2 separate regions of the Homo sapiens genome follow, and region 2 is linked to region 1. Evidence: fine-mapped expression QTL. Tissue or cell type: testis. Region 1 holds a variant in brackets; the other region holds the start of a gene. All regions are shown on one strand. Distances are between the middles of the regions.

Region 1 (8,107 bases):
TACATCATAAAAACCAGTGAATTTTAGGCTTTAAATGAGTGAATTTTATGGCATGTGAATTATATTTCAATAAAGCTTTTTTTTTCTTATTTAATGATGGAGTCTTGCTCTGTCACCCAGGTTGGAGTGCAGTGGTGCAATCTTGGCTCACTGCAACCTCTGCCTCCTGGACTCAAGCGGTTCTCCTGCCTCAGCCTCCCGAGTAGCTGGGACTACAGGTGTGCGCCACCATTCCTGGCTAATTTTTGTATTTTTTGGTAGAGATGGGGTTTCGCCATTTTGGCCAGGCTGGTCTCGAACTCCTGACCTCAGGTGATCCGCCCACCTCGGCCTCCCAACGTGCTGGGATTACAGGTGTGAGCCACTGTGCCTGGCCCTCAATAAAGCTATTTTTAAAAAGGTTTAACCACCTCACCAGAAAGATGTGTATCATTTGTCCTAGTTTAAGTTCAAGGCCCCCCTGTATAGAGTTTTCACGATTAATAGCAATAGCAATTTGATCATTTTTGTGCTCCTAGTTCTATACTTGTCATTTAGTTTACTACTTCTATTTGTTGGGCTTACCACTCATACTTATTAGCCATTGTATGTATGTGAGCAGAGATTGTCTAATACTTATTACCAATTCTAATGTCATCTGAATGCTATAATATCCTCTGGAAACCGTTGATGATTTAGTGAGTACTACTTTTTTTTGTTTTTGAGACCAGAGTCTTGCTCTGTTGCCCAGGCTGGGGTGTTGTGGCGCAATCTCGGCTCACCGCAAGCTCTGCCTCCCGGGTTCACGCCATTCTCCTGCCTCAGCCTCCCAAGTAGCTGGGACTACAGGCAGACACCGCCACGCCCAGCTCATTTTTTTCTTGTATTTTTAGTAGAGATTGGGTCTCACCATGTTAGCCAGGATGGTCTCGATCTCCTGACCTCATCATGATCTGCCATCTCGGCCTCCCAAAGTGCTGGGATTACAGGCATGAGCCACAGCCCCCAGCCTAGTGAGTACTATTTTTAAGCAACCTATTATGGTGGTTGGCATTCCTTTTATCCAGTATGATTCAAATATACAACAGGAGTAGGCATGGTGGCTCACGCCTGTAATCCCAGCACTTTGGGAGGCCGAGGCGGGTGGATCACAAGGTGAAGAGATCGAGACCATCCTGGCCAACGTGGTGAAACCCCGTCTCTACTAAAAATACAAAAATCTGCTGGGCATGGTGGTGGGTGCCTGTAATCCCAGCTTCTTGGGAGGCTGAGGCAGGAGAATTGCTTGAACCCGGGAGGCGGAGGTTGCAGTGAGCCGAGATTGTGCCACTGCACTCCAGCCTGGCGACAGAGCGAGACTCTGTCAAAAAAAAAAAAAAAGTCAAATGTACAATCGTTGTAAAGTTATGCTTTATATGGTATAGAAGACATAATTTGTATGTTTTAGAAAAGGATATGAATAAATTTTTCAAAGCCTTACAGAAATATACTGATGTGTTTGTTGAGTTTGGCTTATATATCACTTAACAACAAAAGTATTTGTTGAGCATGTACTATATATATAACTGTGCTGAGCTCTAGTAAGATACATTATAATATCAAAAATATGCGTATTCTTAATAATCTTATGGTCTAGATGGGAGAGTGATTTCAGAGACAAATGTGAAAAGTTCAGGATTAGACATAATTAAAAGCACTAAAGTGAATTCTGGGGCCGTCTGGAAGATTGATATGGGCCACAGTTAACGGAAAATCTTTATGGACAAATACAACTTTCAGATAGGCTTGTTAAAAAAATTCTTGTTTTTTTAGGTACAAAACTCAAAACATGAACAACAATATATATTACCAATCTTCAAACCTGGTTTGCCTAGAACTGGAATACAGTTGCCTGCGACATATTTTAGAAGAACTAGAAAAGTCAAAGTAATGGATAACAGAAAAGAGCCTCCATTCTTCAATGATGATAACATGGGACCATTTTACTACAGACTTCATTTCTGTGATACCATGGAGCTCTTCATTGAAACATTAACTGGAACATGTTTTGAGCTGAGAGTTTCACCTTTTGAAACTGTTATTTCTGTGAAAGCAAAAATTCGAAGATTGGAAGGTACTCATCTTTCTTTGTTTTTAGGATATGAAAATTAAATTTGTTCATCAATAATGTCTAGTAGTTTTTAAAGTATTTTAATGGAGACAATTTCAAACATATATGATGTTAGAATAAGATAATGAACCCCCTCCTACTCCCTCTCTCCAACATTTATCAGCTTATGAACTATTTTATCCCCATTGCTGTGTTCACCAGATTCTTTGGAAACAAATCCCTGGCATCATGCTATGGTGTGAAATAATATTTTAGAATAGCTTTCAGCAGGTTATGGTGACCTGCAAATTATGCCTTAACTATTTTATAGTTACTTTTAATGTTACTTTATATTTTACTTTTAATGGGAAATAGTAATTATATTCCCTTCTAGGGACCTTATTTCCCTTTTTACACTGCTTTGCAACCACCCTCCTTTTTTTTTTTTTTAATGTGGAGGTTTTCCGAAAAGAGTCTTTGGCTTACATTTACGTATATTCAAAGTTCCCTTAGTATAGCAGGGGTGCTGAATAATGTGTAATGTCTCTTTTGTGGTTTGTATATTTGCAGAAAGTGCCTAAAAAGACTAATTTTTATTAAAATTAGTCTTTGCATTTTGCAGATTTCTGCAATAAGTAATGTTTGCCATTTATAGTTGTTAAAAATCCAGTTTTTAGTAGAAAATTAAATTGTTCCATATAACAGTAAATGGATCTTTGTTGATGGAACCAGCTGGAACTTGCTTGTAATATAAAGGTAGTGACTAGGGTTGCCCTCCAGCTGGTTTAAGTTCAGAATTATAGAAGGATGAGGAGGGTTAGAATTTTTCATTTTTGTGAGGCCAAGGATATATATGAGCTCCTGAATATTTGCTATTTCTCTAGACCCAGGAGATCCTACTGAAGTGAGTGGCTGGCCGAGTCCAGTGACCACATCAGCACATTCAGTAATGACTCTTGAAGCTTTTGTCTGCCCTAAATGATTTGGTGAGATCTAGAGTCATGATAGTTTATTTTGACTTCGTTCTGCTTTGCAATTTATATCATAGTTTAAAGGATACCTTTTTTGGAGCATGAAGGTGAAATCTTGCGTTGTAAATAATCTCTGTACTTTTTATCTCTTTCATGAATTTTAAATAATTTGTATGCAGCAAAAGCACTTTAGAGAGAATCCTGTTTCAATCTTTTTATGTCAGAAGAGTCAACTTGGGTTTAGAGGAGATTAATAACTCATCCAAGGGAAATATTTAGTTTCCATGAGTCAGAACCAGAGCCAAGTTATAGAGTCCTTGTCTCTGTAGGAGGAGACATTGTGGGGACAAAAGCAGTGGCTTTTTGGTTATTAGACAATTGAATCTAAGTTTAAATGTTTATGAACAAATACAGATATTAGGAAATTAAATAAGGTAATATGTAAAATACCTACTATCTTAGTCTGCTGGAGCTGTCATAACAAAATACCACAGACCGGTGGCTTAAACAACAGAAATTTATTTCTCACTGTCTGAAGGCTGAATATCAGGGTACCAGCATGGGCAGGTTCTGGTGGGGGCTGTCCTCTAGGCTTGTTCACTGCATTTTCACATGGCAGAGAGAGAACATAGTATCTTTTTTTTTTTTTTTTTCTTCGAGACGGAGTTTTGCACCTGTTGCGCAGGCTGGAGAATGGCGCAATCTCTGCTCACCACAACCTCCGCCTCCTGGGTTCAAGCGATTCTCCTGCCTCAGCCTCCCGAGTAGCTGGGATTACAGGCATGCGCCACCATGCCTGACTGATTTTGCACTTTTAGTAGAGATGGGGTTTCACCATGTTGGCCAGGCTGGTCTCGAACTCCTGACCTCAGGTGATCCACCTGCCTCGGCCTCCCAAAGTGCTGGGATTACAGGCGTGAGCCACCTAACCCAGCTGAAAAACACATTTTAAGCCCTTTCTGGGTGATCTTTATATTTATATCCTGGAAGACATTTGGGGTCACATGGTGTGAGTCAGATTCTCCAAGTTAGAGGGATATGGAATACGGAGGGCAGAGATGAGGCTGCTTGGGTTCGTCCTGCTGGGAAAATGATTACTCTGCCAGACTGCTTTTTCTTTAGGGGAAGTTTTTGGTGAGTTGAGAACTAGAGCCTGGTGGGGAGAGTGGGGAGGATGGAGGGGCTAGTGGAGAAAGGACTGAAGGAGTGTGCTGCATTAGGAACAAGGAGGCTGCAGCAAGGGAGGAGCAGGGCCTGCTCAGGGATTTACAATGGGCCTTGAAAAAGGGACTGGAGTGCCGAAGCCATGCTGCCTGGCTTCAGATTACTGGCTGCCCAAATTACTTAATCTCTCTGTATCTTAGTTGTCTCAGTCTAAGATAGGAAGAATAATAGTATTTATCTCAAAGGGTTGTTCTCAGGATTAAATGAGTTAAAGGTGAAGTGCTTAGCAGAGTGATCCTCCTGCCTCAGCCTTCCAAAGAGCTGGGATTACAGACCTGAGCCACCAGGCCCAGCCCTCTTCCTTTGTTTATGTAGATCTGAGTTTCTGACCTACATCCTGTTTTTTGTGAAGAATGTCTTTTAACATTTCTTGCAATATGGGTCCACTGGCAACAAATTCCACCTCTTGCTTTCTTTATGTAGATCTTAGTTTCTGACCTACATCATTTTTTCTGTGAAT[AATG/G]TCTTTTAACGTTTCTTGCAAAAAAGCCATCTTTTAACGTTTCTTGTTTGTCTGAAAAAGTATTTCTCCTTCATTTCTGAAGGATAATATTTCAGGGTATAGAATTCTAAGTTGGTATTTTTTTTCTTTCAACACTAAATATTTCACTCTAGTCTTTTCTTATTTGCATGATTTCTGATGAAAACTCCCCTGTAGTAATTATCTTTGCTTCTCTTTAGGTAAGGTGTTTTTTTCCCTTTCCTGGCTGATTTAAGAATTTTGTCTTTGTCTTTGCTTTTCTACAGTTTGATATAATATGTTGAAGGTGTAGATTCTTTGGTAGTTATCGTGTTTGGTATTCTCTGAGCTTCTTGGATCTGTGGTTTGGTATGTTTCATTAATTTTGGAAAATCTGGGCCATTATTTAAGTATTTCTTCTGTCTCATTTTTTCTTCTGATATTCTAGTGGCACCTTTTGAAATTGCCACAACTTTTGAAATTGTCCCACAGTTAATAGATGTTGTTTTTGTGCATTCTTTTTTCTCTTAACAGTCCGTTTTGCCAAGTTTATTTTCTTTTCTTTGTTTCTTTTATTTATTTATTTATTTTGAGATGGGATTTCACTATGTTGGCCAGGCTGGACTCGACCTCCTGGACTCAAATAATCCTTGTGCCTCAGCCTTTCAAGTAGCTGGGACTACAAGTGCATACCACTGTGCCTTGCCTAGGAAGTTTCTGTTGCCATTTTTCTTTTTTTTTTTTTTTTTTGAGATGCGTCTCGCTCTGTCGCCCATGCTGAAGTGCAGTGGTGTGATCTTGGCTCACTGCAAGCTCTGCCTCCTGGGTTCACGCCATTCTCCTGCCTCAGCCTCCCGAGTAGGTGGGACTACACACCCGGCTAATTTTTTGTATTTTAGTAGAGACGGGGTTTCACCGTGTTAGTCAGGATGGTCTCGATCTCCTGACCTCGGGATCCGCCTGTCTCGGCCTCCCAAAGTGCTGGGATTCCAGGCGTGAGCCACCGCGCCCGGCCTCTGTTGCCATTTTTCAAACTTCCCAATTCTTTTCCAGATCCAGTCTGCAGATGACCAATCAAAGGCATTCTTTATTTCTGTTGGAGCTTTTATTTTTAACATCTACTTTTTATTCTTAAAGTTTCCATCTCTGCTTGTATTATCAATCTGTTATTTCATGTTGTATACTTTTCCATTAGATTTCTTAGCATATTAATCTTAGCTGTTTTAATTTCCCTGTCTGATAATTTCAAGATCTCTGACATACCTGAGTCTATTTCTGATGCTAGTTTTGTCTTTTCATACCATATTTTTTCATGTCTTTTAGCATGCTTTGTAATTTTTAGTTGAAAACCAGACATAACATATCAGGTAATAGGAATTGAGGTAAATAGGACATTAGAGTGAGGTTTTATCTTCAACTTGCTAGAAATTGGGCTGTGTTTAATGTTTGCTGTAGTTATAAGTGCCAGAGCCTTCAAATTCCTCTAGTTTTTTCTTGTTTTGTCTCCCCTGTTGCCTTTGAGTTTCCCTAAAGACTCCTCCTTAGAGTTTGCGTCTTACAATTCTTTCCGTTGTAATCCACTGTTGTTATACTGGAGCCTTGTTAGTGTGGTGGTGAGGTATTGGGAAGAGGGGGAACATTCTGTAATCTTATGATTAAATCTTGCAGTGGGCCTGTGCCTCTAGGCTGGGACCTTCAAAGTGTATCTTAGCTTCTCCCCTCCTTCAACTTCTAGTAGTTTAGGTGAGGTAGGGAGGCTAGAGGGGCCTGGTTTCTGGCCCTCAATAATTTCCCAGTCTCATACTAGTCCACACTCAGCCTCTATGAATTCATCAAAATTACCATTCAAGTGTTCCTTCCAGTTTATGACTTTAGAGGCTTCAGCTTCACGTAAATGGATCTTGGCTCTGACTCTCTGGGTTTGCCTATCTCAACAGATTTTCTTATGGTGATTTACCTTACTACCTAATTTCTCTGATGGCACAAAGAAAAGTTGTTGGTTTTCGGTTTGTTCAGCTTTTTTTCTTGTAAGGAGTGGTGAATTAAAAGTTCTCCATATATCAGAGCTGAAACTAGGAGTCTCAACTTCTTAAAAACATAACCGTTTATTTTAAAATTCCAATAACTGTGTTAGCTATATCCTACAAGTTTTTGGTAAGTTGAATGTCAGTGTTATTAAATTCCAAGTATTTGTTTTGCTAAAAATATTTTTTTGTTTAAAAAATTATAATAGTTCTTTAAGGGCTTTGTAATCACAGCAATATATACGATTAGACAGCTTCGATCATTTTTTTTAGTTTATACACATTCTTAATTTGCTAACTAATAATACTGAGCATGTTTTTATTTGTCTCCAAATTCTAACAAACTATTTTTTAGGAAGATATAATTTACATATCATACAATTCACATATTGTATTAGTTTGCTAGGGCTGTCATAGCAAAGTATCACAAACTGGGTGACTTAACAGAAAGTTACACGATTTTGGAGGCTGAAAATACAAGATTTAGTTGGTGACAGTGTCAGGTCCTTCTGAGGGCTGTAGAATCTGTCACATGCCTTTCACCCAGCTCCTGGGGGTTTGCTTTCAATCTTTCTAGTTCATTGGCTTATTCAAGGCATCACCCTGGTCTTCTCATGTGATAATCTCCTTGTGTCTGTGTGTATCTGCCTCCAAATTTCTCCTTTTTATATGGATACCAGTCATATTGGATGAGGGCCCTCCCTAGTTAGCTCACTTTAACTTGAATACATATGTCAAGATTCTGTCTTCAAGTTAAGGTCACATTCTGAGGTATAAGAGGCTTAGACTTCCACCTAAGAATTTTGAAGGGACACAGTATATCATAACAAGTATATCGTTCTGTTGGTGTTGGCAGACATTTACTATCATACAGTCACCACCACAATCAAGATATAGAACAGTTCCATCACCTATCAGAATTCTCCTGTACCTTTTGTGGTCAATCCCTTCCTCTATTCCAAGCCCCTATCATACCCACTGATCTGTTTCTGTTCCTGTAATTTTGCCTTTTTTAGAATTTTATATAAATGAAATCATATACTTTATAGTCTCTTAAGTCTGGTTTTTTTCACTTATGCATAATATGTTTGAGACTTATCATATTGTTATATGTATCAGTAGTTCATTCTGTTTATGGCCGAGTAATGTTCCATTATAAGGAAGTACCATAGTTACTCATTCCCAAGTTGAGGGACATCTGGGTGGTTTTTAGTTTTTGGTGATTACAAATAAAGCCATATAAACTTTCACATACACATTTTTATGGAAGCATAGGTTTTTATTTCACTTGGGTAAATACTTAAGAGTGGAATTGCTGAATTGCATAGGAAGTATATAGTTAACTTTATAAAACTGCTAA
Region 2 (8,098 bases), 130 kb after region 1:
TTGCAACCTCTGCCTTTTTTTGTTTTCCGTTTGCTTGGTAGATCTTCCTCCATCCCTTTATTTTGAGCCTATGTGTGTCTCTACACGTGAGATGGGTTTCCTGAATACAGCACAGTAATGGGTCTTGACTCTTTATCCAATTTGCCAGTCTGTGTCTTTTAATTGGAGCATTTAGTCCATTTACTTTTAAGGTTAATATTGTTATGTGTGAATTTGATCCTGTCATTATGATGTTAGCTGGTTATTTTGCACGTTAGTTGATGTAGTTTCTTCCTAGCCTTGATGGTCTTTACAATTTGGCATGTTTTTGAGTGGCTGGTGCCAGTTGTTCCTTTCCATGTTTAGTGCTTCCTTCAGGAGCTCTTTTAGGGCAGGCCTGGTGGTGACAAAATCTCTCAGCATTTGCTTGTCTGTAAAGGATTTTATTTCTCCTTCACTTACAAAGCTTAGTTTGGCTGGATATGAAATTCTGGGTTGAAAATTCTTTTCTTTAAGAATGTTGAATATTGGCCCCCACTCTTTTCTGGCTTGTAGAGTTTCTGCCGAGAGATCAGCTGTTAGTCTGATGGGCTTCCCTTTGTGGGTAACCCAACCTTTGTACTCTTTCTATCGCCTTCTTAAAACTGGAAGGGTGAGTGAGATAGGGCAACAGTAGCCATCTCCATGTCATCTAGATTAGTTAGATTAGGGATAACACAAAGGAAAAATTAAAATTTTCTCTATCTATCTTAGTCCTTTTACTATTTCTATGGCTTTAATATACTCGAAAGTTCTGCAACCAGCACCATAGTCAATTTTAGAATATTTTCATTATCCTAAAAATAAATCATTGAATCCACTGCTTCCTCCCGTTTACCCATTCCTACCCCAGCTCTTGGCATGCACTGCTCTACTTTCTGTCTCTATAGATTTATCTCCTCTGGGCATTCCATACAACTGTCATCATGTAATATATGGTTCTTTGTGACTGGCTTCTTAGTATAATTTTTTTCTTTTCTTTTTTTTTTTTTTTGAGACAAGGTCTCACTGTATCACCTAGGCTGGAGTGCAGTGGCGCCATACCGGCTCACTGTAGCCTCAACCTTCTGGGCTCAAGCGATCCTCCCAACTCAGCCTCCTGAGTAGCTGGGACCACAGGCATGAGCCACCACACCCGGCTAAGTTTTGAGTTTTTTGTAGGGATGTGGTTTTGCCATGTTGCCCAGGCTGGTCTGGAACTCCTGGGCTCAAGCGATTCACCCACCTTGGCCCCCCAAAGTGCTGGTGTTATAGGCGCGAACCACCACACCTGGCCTACTTAGCATAACTTTTTAAAGGTTCGTCCATATTGTGGCATGTGTCAGTACTTTATTTCTTTTTATTGCTGAATATGATTCCGTTGAATGGATATAGCTTATTTGATTTATCCGTTTATCATTTGATGGACGTTTAGGTTATTTCCACCTTTTGGCTATCATGAGTAATGTGATAGAAACATTCATGGACAAGTTTTCATATGAGGAGATGTTTGCATTTCTCTTTGGTGTATATACCCTAGGATTGAAGTTGTTGGGTCATATGATAACATGTTTAACCTTTTGAGAAAGAGCCAGACTATTTTTCAAAACGACTGCATAGATCCTCACTAGCAGTATATGAGGGTTTCAGTGTCACAACATCCTTGCTAACACTTGTTTGTCTTTTATTATGAACATAATTAAAGTAATATCTAATAGTTTTGATTTGTATTTCCATGATGGCTAATGATGTTGATTAACCCATTTTTCATTGGGTTATTTGTCTTTATTATTATTATTATTATTATTATTATTATTATTATTATTATTATTTTGGTAGAGATGGGGCCTCGCTATGTTTCACACACTGGTTTTGAACTCCTGGCCTGAAGCAGTCCTCCCACCTCAGCCTCCGAAAATGCTGAGATGATAGGCGTGAGCTACTTGCACCTGGCCTTGCCCTTATGTTACTGAGTTGTAAGAGAGTTGTTTATATATTCTAGATACAAGTCCCTTATTACATATATGATTTGCAAACTTTTTCTTCTGTCAGTTGTCTTTAGACTTTTTTTTTTTTAACATTTATAAATAGAGGTAGAGTATTGCTATATTGCCCAGGCCTTTCTTGAGTTCTGGCCTCAAGAGATTCTCTTGCCTTGGCCTCCCAAAGTTCTGGGATTATAGGTGTGAACCATTATGACTGGCTGTGTTTTCCCTTTCTCAGTGGTGTCTTTTGAAGCACAAAAGTTTTTATTCTGATGATGTGTAGTTTGTCTGTTTTTCCTTTTGTGTGAGGAAGAGATCCAAATTTCTTTTGCATGTGGCTATCTAGTTGTCCCAGCACCATTTGTTGAAAACAGTACTCTTTCCCCAAGAAGTGATCTTGGCACCCTTCTTGAAAATCAGCTGACTATAGATACGTGGGTTTATTTCTGGGCCCTAAATTCTATTCCATTGATATATCTATTCATATTCCAGTATGACACAGTCTTGATTACTGTTCCTTTGTTGTAAGTTTTGCAATCTGGAAATGTGAGCTCTCCAACTTTGTTCTTTTTCAAGGTTGTTTTGGCAGATCTGAGTCCCTTGAATTTTATATAAATTTTCAGATCAGCTTGTCAAATTTCTGTAAAGAAGTCAGCTCAGTTTTTGATAGAGATTGCTTTGACTCTCTATGTCAACTTGGGAAGAATTGCCATTTTAACAATATTAAATCTTCTGATCCATGAACATGGACATCCATTTCCAATTTCTTCAACAACCAGCTTTGGCAGTATCTCTTCTAGATGTGAATGTTCATGTTAGGTGGGCTGTATTTTGCAAGTTAGCATTAGTCAAATTGAAGCCCTCATGCCTGGATTGTGAGGCATAGTGCTGAGGTTTAACTGTTATTCTGTGTAAAGATTAATTTAGTTGATATAAAAGATGTTTGGAAATTATGCAAAGAAAATAATGTAATATATGATTTGTATTTTTCATGTAAATCTTCACATAAAAAATGGCATGGCCTGTTTTATCGTTTGTTTGTAAACTCATTTTTATCCTAAATATGTGTGGCATAGGAGGGAGATTGTTTCAGGCAAACTTATAGGTCTGTTGCTTTGTTGTGGTGGTACATATCAAAAGACTAACTTCAATGACAGTGAGGAGGGATGTCCTTCAAAACTGTAAAAAATTTGAGACCCTCTTGCATCTGTGTTTCTGTGCCATAAATAGCCCTTCTCAGGCTTGTCATGGGCATGTACCAATGATGTAATAATGATGATTATATCAGAAGCACCACAGGTAGCTTTTGGCATGGTAGGTATAGGGCTGTGGATATCGTCAGTTTGACCAAGTATTCCAAGAGGCCCCATGGAGTTTGTCATCTGTAATAGAGGACGTTAGTGCATTAGTGATGAAAAAACTGCTTACCACTGACTATTGTGATCTCCCAGGGAGTATAAGGCAGCTCCGCAGTAAGTGCCTCTTGTTTTGTGTGACGTGCTTGAATACAAACATTCAGACTGTTTCTTGGGCACAGTAGTGCTCCATCTTATGCCAGCCTCATCAAAGGCTTGAAATAGAGTAGGTGGTGTGTGATACCTAGACACTAACATCCCCTATTCTATTTTCCTTTTTTTGTTGTTATTATCAATGGTCACTCACTTACTGTAAAACTAGACTTTATAAACAGATTATTATTTTAGCTAATTTTCTTCTATGTGTTGATCCCTCCCAGTTTTTGTTCCTTTTTGTTGTTCATTGATTCTAGAGTTGTGTGAAGGAAGCCATTTCGTGATTCCTGGTGCTCCTCTGCTTGCTTAGTGACACTACTAAGAATTGGCACCAGCCTTACAAACACCTGCCTTTGATCCAGAGTAGAGTTTGGGGAGAGGTAGAGTAAGTGACTGCTTATCAAATGTGACCTTGGGGTTGTCAGGCCCTGTTGTTTACCCTACCTTTTCCTACTGCCTCACCTGTCCCCACCCCCTACCCCAGCACATGGTTAATAAATGAAAATCTCCAAATTCGAGATTCATTCTTTTGGTTGAAGGCTTCCATTTTCTGTTAAAATTTGAACAACATGAAACATTTTACTACATTAAACCTTCTGGATAATTTACGTTTAATTGGTTTTGTATACAGAGTGGGATAGATCTCAGTGGGTAAGTGGGGAGAAAGAACAACACACAATTCAATTATTAGACATTTTGGGGGATGCGTAAGAGAAAACCAGAAACAGGGCAGGAGTACCTGGAATCACTGAAGACAGTTTATGCATACACTGTTATTTTACCTAAAGGCAGCCTTTCTCATGGTTCTTAGGCATGTCATGGTGACCCTTCATATTCCCTAGGAAACCCTTTACGGCAGTGTTTGGCAAACTATAGTCTGGTGGGCCAAATCTAGCCTGCTGCCTATTTTTGTAAATAAAGTTTTATTGGAACATAACTATGCTCATTCATGTACATACTCTTTTTTTTTTGGTGGGGGGGAGGTTGGGGGGTTGGAGTCTCGCTGTGTTACCCAGGCTGGAGTGCAGTGGTGCGATCTTGGCTCACTGCGAGCTCCGCCTCCTGGGTTTGTGCCATTCTCCTGCCTCAGCCTCCTGAGTAGCTGCGACTACAGGCGCCCGCCACCATGCCTGGCTAATTTTTTGTATTTTTAGTAGAGACAGGGTTTCACCGTGTTAGCCAGGGTGGTCTCGATCTCCTGACCTCGTGATTTGCCCGCCTTGGCCTCCCAAAGTGCTGGGATTACAGGCATGAGCCACCGCACCCGGCCCATTTACATGCTCTCTATGGGTGCTTTCATGCTACAGTGGCAGAGTTAATTAGCTGGAACACACTTGGACCACAGTGCCTAAAATATGTATCTTGCCCTTTATAGGAATAGTTTGCCAACAGCTCGTGTAGAGTCTCTACTTTTGGAAGGTTAAGTATGGATCATAGATACCTTGAGTTTAATTTGGACTTCCTAACCTCTGATCTCACCATTATGTGGACTCACAGACAGTGGTTTTAAGGAAAGATCACTGCTTATTTCAGGACAAATGCTTGGTCATGATAAAAAAAAAAGTTTAACTTCAAAAATATTCTTAAAATAAATGGTGGCACTGCTTTGTTTTAATCCTAAGTAGCCAATGGAAGATTATATCTCTGATTATACATGTACGTGATCCACCTGCCTCTTTCAGGTGCTCCCATCTTATTATGAGAAATGTTAGAATTTTCCCCTTAGACATTCATCTTCTATTGTTTTTGAAGACCAAACATTTATGTTGCCGTAACTTATTTAAATATACATATGAATATAAGTATAAAATGTTAAGCTCACTCTTGGAAATTTAAAGTGTTTTAGCTGAGTTATGTTTATTCTCTCTTCATTTTCTCTCAGCTTGAAATCCATGGCCCAAAATGACTCTACCAGTGGAGACTCTCTTCTGTGAAGAAGACGACCAGATAAGAGGTTGGGATGAGCATGCCACTGCATCAGATCTCTGCCATTCCATCCCAGGATGCCATCTCTGCTAGAGTCTACAGAAGTAAGACCAAAGAAAAGGAGAGGGAAGAACAGGTACTGGGAGAGTATCTTTTTTAGTTTCATTATTTTTATTAAATTTTTATTAAAGATGACCTAGAACAGTGCTTAAACTCTAAAGGTCAGGTTTTCTCTGATAATATACTGACAAGCACACAAATAGTTGTACTCAGAAGGAATTGTCTTTTTGTAGATTTCTAGGTTTTCAGATTTTGGTGTAAACTACTGTTTATAAATGGTTATAAATGACTTATCTTCATTGGTTAAATCTACCTGATTATTTTTGGTTAATCACTGTGACTAAGTTCTTTGGATTCTCAGAACATGATGCTGCTAGTTTCCTATTCATCGTAGTGTGAAATTTGGACACCAGATGGCTGGAATTTCTTAATATGTGTCTTAGTCTGCCCTAGCTGCTGTAACAAAATGCCATAGCCTGGGTGGTTTAAATAACAAGCATTTATTTCTCACAGTTCTGGAGGCTGGAAATCTGAGATCAGGGTGCCAGCATGGTTGGATTCTGGTGAGGTCTTACTTCCTGACTTATAAACAGCTGCCTTCTTGCTGTGTCCTCACATGGCATAGAGGGAGGAAGGAAGCAAGCTGTCATGTGGCTGTTCATATAGAAGGACTGATCCCATGGAGAGGGTTCCACCCCTAGGACCTAATTGTCTCCCCAAGGCCCCACCTCCAAATACCATTACATTATGGATTAGAGTTCTGGCATAAAAGTTTTGTGGGAAACATAAACATTTAGTCCATAATAGTGTGTACATGGGGAAGCTATACAAACTTGTTTGGAATAGAAAAAGGAAAATGTCCAACAGTTAGGCCAGGAAGGGAGATTCTTTTTGATATACACCCTCACTGCAGGTTTACTGTAGGTGGTTATTTAATAAAGCCTTATTGAATTTATCTATTTGATGGGATTTTTAAGGTCTAAATAAATAGCATTAATCAATTATTTGTAGAATGGGGATTTTTATTGGTATTGGGAAGAAAGAGAAACCATTCTGTCTTACCTTAGTGTGGGGATGGTTTGAACACCCAGTGGCAGCCTGACAGTTCAGGGTGTCGTGGAGCCCAGATGAGGTGGCAGTAGTGGAAGAGCAGTTGAACCAGGAACTTGCAGGGCCCCGTGAGAGCTTCAGCAGCAATGGCACAGGATGAAAATAGTGGTTGTGTTTCTAGGGTCTCAATTGTGGTATCAGGTTTGATTTGAAAGGTAAATTTTTGTCCAGTGGAGCCCATTTTTATTTATGCAGTTTTTCCTGGCACAGGTTCAACCCAAAATCTTTTGCTATGATTTCTGATCCTCCTGTGCTTGGGAGATATTATTCCTACTGAGTCCCATAAGAAGAGTGAACCCTTGCATTTTACCTAGACTCAAATAATCCACCTGTTTGCTTAGTCTAATCTGTTAACACACCCTCGCTGAAGCCCATAACTTCTACAGAGGGTTAATGACTTTTATACAGTACTCAATACAGTTGATGAATGAATGAATGAGTGAATATGAATTCAGTTTCAGTGATATGGGTCATGTCACTGTGGAGATGATCTTTTATTTCAAATACAGTATGAGAACCTTACAATAGTATACTTTCATTTCTTTCCTTCTGGCCTTTTCATTATTGTCTTTTAATAAATTTTAAACCCTAGAATATATTTAAAAAAATACTTTCTCTTTAAATACTTTTCTTTTAAATAATAATAAAGATCTGTTTACTCAGATAATTACCATTTCTGGTGTATTTCCATCTATCATTTTTCTTTTGTCTAAAGGACTTTAGCATTTCTTATAATGTGAGTTGGCTGACAATGACTTCTTTCAGCTTTATTTAAAAAATATTTTTTATTTGTTTCTTGTATTCTGAAGTTGTGCTTGTGGATCAGTGGGTTTACAATTTTCATAGAATTTGGAGCTTTTTGGCTATTCTTCAGATACTTTTTCTGTCCCCCCATTCTTTCTTTGGGGACTCCAGTATACACATTGACTGGCTTAAAGTTGTCCACTGCTGCACTTTTAATTTTTTAAGGTTATTTTTTCTTTCTGCATTTTATTTTGGATATTCCAATTACTTTGTTTATAATTTCATTAATATTTTCTTTTTCAATATCTAATCTGCCAGTAATTCCGTCTAGTGTGTTTTTCATCTCAGACATGTTTTATCACTAGACATTTGTTTTGGATCTTTTTTATATCTTCCATGTCTCTATGCAACTTTTTTAGTATATGAAATAACAGCTATAATGACAGTTTTAGTCCTCTTTTCTGTCATTGTTGGCATGTGTGACTATTCTGAGTTTGCTTTTCTCCCTCACTTCGGTCAGTTTTATTTTCATTTTTGTTATTATTTTTTACTTATTTTTGAGTACAGATCTTGCTCTGTTGCCCAGGCTAGCATACAGTGGCGTGATCACAGCATACCGCAGCCACGAACTCCTGGGCTCAAATGATCCTCCTGCCTCAACCTCCCAAGTAGCTGGCACTATAGACCATGCCTGGATAAGTTTTTCTTTCATTTTGTAGAGTCGGGGTCTTGCTATTGCCCAGGCTGGTCTCAAACTCCTGGGCT

Direction of the effects. Alleles are on the strand shown, and positions count from the first base shown. SD is a standard deviation of normalised expression in the study named.
As copies of G replace AATG in region 1, the expression in testis of the gene that starts at base 3,294 in region 2 goes down (small effect, 0.40 SD a copy in GTEx).

The links. PIP is the estimated chance that this variant, and not a neighbour inherited with it, causes the effect.
Region 2: it holds the start of MARCHF8, and the variant in region 1 is fine-mapped to the expression of MARCHF8 in testis (GTEx, PIP 0.94).

Annotation. Positions count from the first base shown.
Region 1 is chr10:45,657,527-45,665,633 of GRCh38, reverse strand. It overlaps ZFAND4 (zinc finger AN1-type containing 4), which reads left to right. Exons shown (of 10, transcript NM_174890.4): 2 at 1,792-2,092. The coding sequence starts at 1,909. Among named protein-coding and RNA genes, the nearest start is that of ZFAND4, 11 kb to the left of the region's middle. The variant AATG/G (reference allele first, on the strand shown) is at 4,724.
Region 2 is chr10:45,530,567-45,538,664 of GRCh38, reverse strand. MARCHF8 (membrane associated ring-CH-type finger 8) reads left to right here and starts at 3,294. Exons shown (of 8, transcript NM_001282866.2): 1 at 3,294-3,454; 2 at 5,376-5,555. The coding sequence starts at 5,454.